Linked DNA regions of Homo sapiens. The protein of the gene in region 1 interacts with the protein of each later gene in a biochemical or structural test. Each region holds a gene or a part of one and is shown in the gene's direction. Other genes may lie near its edges. The genes, in order: ARHGEF6 and SIRPA.

Evidence for each region.
Region 2: the proteins of ARHGEF6 (region 1) and SIRPA form a complex in vitro, tested with the Homo sapiens proteins (one large-scale study listed by BioGRID).

Annotation. Positions count from the first base shown.
Region 1 is NC_000023.11:136,669,340-136,673,160, reverse strand, and holds part of ARHGEF6 (rho guanine nucleotide exchange factor 6), read left to right. Parts: intron 1-1,041; coding exon 1,042-1,141; intron 1,142-3,624; coding exon 3,625-3,679; intron 3,680-3,821. UniProt on the Homo sapiens protein: Acts as a RAC1 guanine nucleotide exchange factor (GEF).
Region 2 is NC_000020.11:1,933,205-1,937,025, forward strand, and holds part of SIRPA (tyrosine-protein phosphatase non-receptor type substrate 1 isoform 1 precursor), read left to right. Parts: intron 1-1,510; coding exon 1,511-1,550; coding exon of another isoform or gene 1,551-1,562; intron 1,563-3,821. UniProt on the Homo sapiens protein: Immunoglobulin-like cell surface receptor for CD47. Acts as docking protein and induces translocation of PTPN6, PTPN11 and other binding partners from the cytosol to the plasma membrane.

The DNA of each region.
Region 1 (3,821 bases):
TCATCTCTAGATTGCTTATCATACCTCATAAATGTAAATGCTGTGTAAATAGTTGTTATACTGCATTGGGTTTTAAATTTGTATTGTTTTTTGTTTTTTCTGAACATTTTCAATGCACGGTTGGTTGAATCCACAGATGTGAAACATGTGGATATGGGGGGCCACCTGTATTAAGCACCTACAAAGTGCTAGGCCCTGGAGAAGGCAGAGACACATCTTACCTCAAGAAAGGGGAGGTGGTCAAGTGAAGGCAGTGAGTGTGCACACCTCTGAAGGAACTTGGCCTAGAAGAGAGGAAGCCAGTGGCTCAGGGAGACCCAAGATTAAGCACTTGAGCTCTGAGAGGGAGGATCCAGAGTGAGGGAGGTGCAGGAGAGCTGTTTGGTTGGGCCCCCATGCCTGTTCTGTCACCTCTTCTGTCCCAGAGCCTGGAGACATTCTGGGCAGAGGACACCTACATCTTTGCTGATGATGTGATAATCTCCAAACCTCACTCCACCCTTGATGAAAATGGTCTTAGGAGACATACCTACCTTACCCTATAAGACTGTAAAGAGAACAAATGGGGGTGATGATGCTTCTGAGGCCCTTTAAGCACATTGTGTTTCAGTGCAGTGCTACTGTCAACCTTTTACTACAATGACAAAACACTGTAGCATAGGATGTAGTGTGTCCTTCCTTGGAGATTTGCAGGGAAGAGTGATCACTGGTCAGCTCTTTGCTCTGGAGGAGGCAAAACAGGAAAGAATGGAGGTCTTGGTTGTGGACAGGTATTACAGGGGCTCTTTTGCATTATTTTTCTGAATACAAAATGCTTCCCACCTCGGGAAGATTGAATCAGTGTATTTGGCCATTTAGAATTTCTCATGTCAGGAAAATTTAGTCAGCAAATGATGGGTGACTGTCCTCTGGGTGTAATGTAGCAACATGCTATGAACAAAGACCCTTCTGTAACAATAGTGGAAAAGAACTAACACCCACTATTTCTACTCTTCACTAGTAACTCTCCCTCCTCCCCCATCTTGCAACCCTTGTTTGTAGGTACTCGAAAAGATTCCATTCCACAAGTCCTACTCCCTGAGGAAGAGAAACTCATCATTGAAGAAACCAGAAGCAACGGCCAGACCATCATGGAAGAAAAGTGAGTAGAGCAGGCAAAACCTTGCCTAGTTTCTCTTGGGGCTGGCAAGAAGGTCTGGTAGGACGGGGAGCTCCTGGAGAGTCTATGATGAGGGACAACTCCTCCTTACCTGGGAATGCGGCCTGCTTTGCTGTGCATGCATTTGGGAGACTTTAGAGGGCTGCCCACTAACAAATGGAAAGAGGAAGGAAAAGCAGCGGTGACAGAGCCCTCCAAGGCAGCTCCAGCTGGCAGCTGCCCCTGCAGCCAGCTCCCCATCCAGTAAGCTGCTTCTGAGCACATGGGAATATCAATGCCCTGGATGGGTTTAGGAAGTGGCTGGGAATTCCAGCCACAGAACCAATTTCCTTGCCCGGAGAGATGCCACTCACATGTTTTGAGTCAGAAGCTGTGCTTTCACATTTTTGACATCATTTAAAATCCTACAGCAATCCGGTTAGATAAACATTACTCTCACCACTTTCACAGATAAAGAAACTGAGGTACAGGAAGTTCAGGGAAATTATGTCTCTGACTTACCTTTACACAGTAGTGTGGGTGACCTAATGGGGGAAAATCAGGTTAAGTACCTTCTGGCTCATAAAATTAACACAAAGTAGCCAAATAATTCATTTGTCTAAACTTGAGTCATTTCTGAAGTCAGGCCTAAATTTGCATAGGACAGCATATTTCAAGGTGCTTGGCATTGTCAATGCATTTTACATCTGATGTGTGAAGTGATACAGCAAAATGGTTAAGTACTTGGGCTCAAGCAAAAAACAGTGTGGTTCAACTCCCACTTCTGCTACTCATTAGCTGTGTGACCTGGGGCAAGTTGCTTCACCTCTCTGTGCCTCAGTTTCCTCATCTGTAAAATAAGGATGACGGTAATGCTTTCAGAGTTGTTGTGAGGTTAAGTGAAATAAGTATAAAGGCTAGCTCAATAAATAATGTTAGTTAATTCTTATTATAACGATATTCATTTTTACAACTTTGTGAGGTTTTCAGAAAATGTGCTATTATCCCCATTTTACATGTAAAGAAACTAAGACCAAGAGAGGATGAGAAGGAAACTGGTTCCCAGAGAACAGAGGACTAGTAAGTGGCAGGATCAGAACCAAAACTTAGATCTCCAAAATCTTTGTCCAGGGAGAGACCCAGAGAGGAAAAGGCTGTTCTGCAACCCAGTAATTACCAAAAAATTACTTTTTTGGGTACTGTATGGTTGAGATATTCCAGAAAGAATGCCTCTGACTTTGTGTCATGTGCAGTCAGAGAACTGGGAAGGGCAATGTCATAGCACAGATACTGTAGACTAGGCAATCTTGTGATACCTCTCATTATATGATAGGTGATGTTCATTCCTGCCCCAAAGCTAGAGAAATCAAAACCTTATGACGGGAATTGAAAACGTCGAACTCCTAAAAACAGAGAGCAGAATGGTAGTTTCTAGGGACTGAGGGGAAAGGGGAAATGGGGAGATGTTGGTCAAAGGGTACCAAATCTCAGGTATGCAGGATGAATAAGTTCTGGAGAACTAATGTACAGCATGTTGACTACAGTTGGCCCTCTGCATGCGTGGGCTCTGCATCTGTGGATTCAACCAACCCCAGATCAAAAAGATATTCAGAAAAAAATGGATGGTTGCATCTGTATTGAACATGTACAGATTTTTTTCATACCTAGTAAAGTTTTTCTTTTTCCGCCTTTGTTGAGGGATAATTGACAAAGGTGTACAATGTGATGTCTTGATATATGTATGCACTGTTATACCATATTGTTTTTTCCTAAGAAATATGGTATAACAAATATTTGCATAGCATTTACATTGTATTAGGTATGATAAGTAATCTAGATATGATTTAAAGTGTATGGGAAGATGTGCATTGGTTATATGCAAATACTATGCCATTTTATGTTAAGGACTTGAGCATCTGTGGATTTTGGTATCCATGGGGGTCCTTGAACCAATACCCCATGGATACCGAGGGAGGGAAGACTGCATAGTTTACAATGGAGTATACTTGAAGTTTGCTAAGAGTGTAGATTTCCACCACACACATACAAAAGGTAACTATGTGAGGAGATGGATATGTTAATTAGCTTGATTATGGTAACCACTTCACAATGTATACATATATCAAGACATCACATTGTACAGCTTTGTCAATTATCCCTCAACAAAGCTAGAAAAAGAAAAACTTAGTGACGGGCCCTAGTCTCTTGTGTTTTGTTCACCCAAGCTGGGAAGTGAGTAGAAAAGGAGGAGGGAAGTATAGAAAAGGTGTAATGACATTGCATTTAGCTAAGCATGTGTGGTGGTGGTTGTTCTTCCATCAAAGTCAAGAAGATGGAAACCATTTAGAGCAGTACCATTCCCAATCAGCTAGAAAGTCCACTGTTTTTCAGGATCTGTATTTTTATAAAGTGGCTTTTATTGTTAAGTATTTTAACAGTACCTCAGTGCAAGCCATTTGTCTCTGAATTTTATCTTTATTTTCTAGGAGCCTTGTTGATACTGTTTACGCCTTGAAGGACGAGGTCAGAGAACTGAAGCAGGTAATAAAATATAAAATCATTTTCTCGGGTAATAGAACCATTCTCTTTTTCTTGCCTCACGCTGCTCATGCTTTCAGGGAAGGCCTAGGAGCAAGGTAGCGAGGGGGGATTTTTGTTTTCCTTGTGTCATCAAGGTAGGTTT
Region 2 (3,821 bases), on another chromosome or scaffold:
GATATGCAGATAGACAGGAGATCTGAGATTGTCATGGAGGGGCAGCCCAGCCAGCGCAGCACTGTCAGCAGAGCCATCACAAGGTGACACCATAGTTGAGTCTTGAAGGAAACAGGAAAGTTAGCCAAGAGGAAAAATGATCAAAGGGGTCCTTCGAGGCTGCTATTGAAGCATGAAGTACATAACATCAAATGCCACCCCCCCCCCGAAATATCTGGTGGGCAGATGAGTGGGTACATGAGGGCAGGGCAGTGAATTAGCCTGGAGGCAGCACGTCAGACCACGTGGGACTCTGAGCAGGGCGATGAGTTGGACTTGAACCAGCCAGCCAGTGGGAAGCTCCAGGAGGGCTGGAGGCCAGTAGTGTGGGGACAGATCTGCGTGATCTTCCCCAGCAGACGTGCCCCTGCTCCTGGAGGGTTCTTTCTGTGGCCACGTGGGGCTTGTCATGTCTCAGAACTGCTTTCAGAGCCAAGCACTCATGCCAAATCCATTAATAACCCTGCTGCCAAGCCCCACTGCTCATTTCTGACATTATCCATGCTAACATCCCCGGGGTTGCCGGCTTGAGAATTTACACAACTTCTGCCAAGCCAGTGGCTCTGGTTTGCTCATCACCTTGACCGTGACCCTCCAGTGAGTCAAGTCATGACCTCCAATTACAGAAGCAAGTGCACGAACAACTTCTTTGATTAACTTGGACATCTTGGTCTTTTTCTTTTCTTTCTTTAATGATGATACATAGATGTTTATAATACAGAACATTTGGAGAATATGGGAAACTAAAAAGGAGAAAAAAAATACCATGCAAAGACCACTGCAGTTTGCATTTTGCTATGTTTCCTTCCAGTGTTATCCACACATTTTTCATAATTGAGATAATCCTACAGAGAATTTTCCTTTTTCACTTATCATTTTAATGTAAGCAATTTTAACTTAAAAAAAAAACCTCCTCATAAACCTTTTAAATCTTTATCTGTGGATTTATCCTAATTTCCCTAACCAGTCCCAATTGGCAGAGCCCTAAGACATAAACCTCCTCCCCCATCCAGCCCTTGACAAATGCCTTTGTGTTGAAAGCTTTTTCTATATTTTGAATTCCCCCAAAAAAAAGTGCAATTATGAGTCAAAGGATGAGGACATCTTCCAAGCTCTTGATTTTGCCAGCTGCTTCCCAAAAGGATTGTACTGGTTTGCCTCTCCCACCAGTGACGTATGAAAGCTCCAGTTCATTTCACCATAGCTTCCCCAGCACCAAGTATTATAATTTTTAAAGATCCTTGCCAATAGAGTAGGTTAAAAAAATGATAGTGCATTGCTTAGAATTCCTTTTTAGTGAGATTGACCCCTTTGTCCAAACATTTGATATGCAGTTGTATTTCTGTTATGAGTCCTTCGTTCATGTCCTCAACCCATATAGAAAATGGAGCCTAAATGTTATTCTTATCAGTTTGCATGAGCACTTGAGATAGTGAGGGTATTTTTATCTGTGTGTCTCTTTCCTTTTTAGGTTGCATGAGCCCGAGAAGAATGCCAGAGAAATAACACAGGTACAGTCCTTGGTGAGATGCCCTTCCTGGGAAACTCCGTGGCGTGGTTGCTTCACATCAACCGGAATTGCAGATCTGGTTCTAAATTAAGACTCCTTGTGGGGTGGAGGGTGGAGGATCTTACACTCCTAGCTTTCCCCATGTCCTGTGCATATTCCTTCTCTCTACTGCAGCCAAGAGTGGCTGTTGCAGCCTCATGACTCAGTGCGACCCATTGCACAACTCCCCAGGGGCACCATTCACAATCCGTCCTATGAAAATGGTGCCCTGGAGTCAGGCTGCAGCTCCCTTAGTGTGGATCGTGCCTTCCCATCTCTCTACATTTGCCCAGGCCCATCCCTCTACCAGGAGCGCCACTCCCAGCTCACTGCCCGCTCCTCACAGCCAGGCTTTTCTATGCTGGAACTGCAAAGCCCAGCCTGCCAGGGCCTCTCCCACCTTTGCTGATGGAAAGACCCCATGTCATTAATTACCTCACACAAGGGCACACTCACTCAAGCTGGAGGTTTCTGGTCAGCATTGCTGAGATGATTTTGCAGCAACACGGTTTCTGAGAAACCTAGCCCTGCTTATCACCGGCTGATGCTGTCAGACCTTGAAGGCAGAGGGCTGCTCAGCATCTTGTAACAAGACAGGCCCTGCTCTGAACCCGGAACGAGAGCGCGCCAGCTGTCCTTGACATTTCCAAGGCAGTTGTCATCTTTTTAGATGTAATCTGTTGAAGGAGTCGGGCTGGTGAAAGGCGCAGCATTTGTAGACCAAAATGCCTTGGCCCTGCCCTTGTGACCCATGGGGTCCCCCCGCAGCCCCGGACATGAGCTCGAGTTGTAATTAAGAAAAAACAATTTCCAGTCATGAGCGAGGGAGATCTTCTCCCCCATCATTTTACTTCTGGACTTCCTCCTGGAATCTTCTGGGGGAAAAAAATGATGGTGAGAAGAATGGGTCATGGAAACCTCTACGAAATTCACAGCAGAGACTTACTGGGCACCCACTGTGTGCCACGCACTGGACAGTGAGCCAGACAGTCACAGCCCAGCTGGCAGAGTGCCTGCGATTCCAGTGCCAGGTGCCAGCCCTGGCCAGGGAGGGAGTTGCACGCTGTCAACACGGATTTCCCAGACAGAAGCAAATGAGAGCACGCAGGGCTCAGGACAGAGGAGCTGTGTGCTAAGAGCACAGTCGTAGAGTCCAACACACTTTGGTTCTTTGCCAGCCGGACAACTTTGTCCACTTTATTGAACCTCCCTTGGTCTCAGTGTCTTCAGCCGTAAAGTGGAATAGATAATCCTTCCCAAGCAGGGTTGTGGTAAGAGTGGATGGGGTGATCTATGTGATTGTGTGCTGCTTGTAAGCCCTGAGAACTGAAATCAGCCATTACCGTGCACCAACTAGGAGGTGTGCCGGTTGGTGGTAGCTTTATTCTGTTCTATCACGCAGGGGCCAGTCACAGAGGGAGCAAAGTTTATCATTCATGATGGGCGCTTTTGAGGCGGCAGTGGCAGGTTGATAGGATTAGCACATGGGAGGTATCCAAGTTTGCTAAGTGGTTAATGATTGCGAACATTTATTGAAGACAGATGCTCAATAGGTACCAGGCTCTGTTCTAAACGCTTTACCTGGATAATCTCATTCCATCCTCACAGCAACCCTGGCAGTAGACACTATTATCATCCCCTCTTTACAGATGGAGAAACTGAGGCCCAGAGAGGTTAAGTGAATTGCTCAAAATCCCTGAGCTAGAACCAGGATTCAAACCCAGGCTTTCTGACTCCAGAACGTTTCCCGCTTCACTAACTGGCGATCTCGTTCTTATACTGCCCCTGTTCTCTGTCTCCCTGTCCCCAGCTTTGCCCTGAGTGAAGGTGAAATTATTGCCATCCACTCATATATTCATTCAATATGGATCAGACTTCTTATGTGCCAGCCTTGGTTTCTGAATCATAACAAATGCCCAGTGAATATTTGTGGAATAAACGCATACATTAATGAATGTCCCCACACGTACCACCATCAGCAGCACCTCCTCAGGCCCCCAAACAGACATGGTCCTGGGTAGCGGGCCCTGTGATGGAAAACAAACATGGGCTGAGGAAGCACAAAGAAGGAACATGGACCCTGCCAGGAGAGGGGAGAGCCAGGGAGGGTCTTAGTATGAGCCATGCTTCATCTGAAATTTACATGGTGGATTGGGATTTGTTACAAGGAGAAGCAGGACAGACACCCTCGAGGGATGAACATGAGAAATGGGTGAAGACTGCAGGTGGTTCA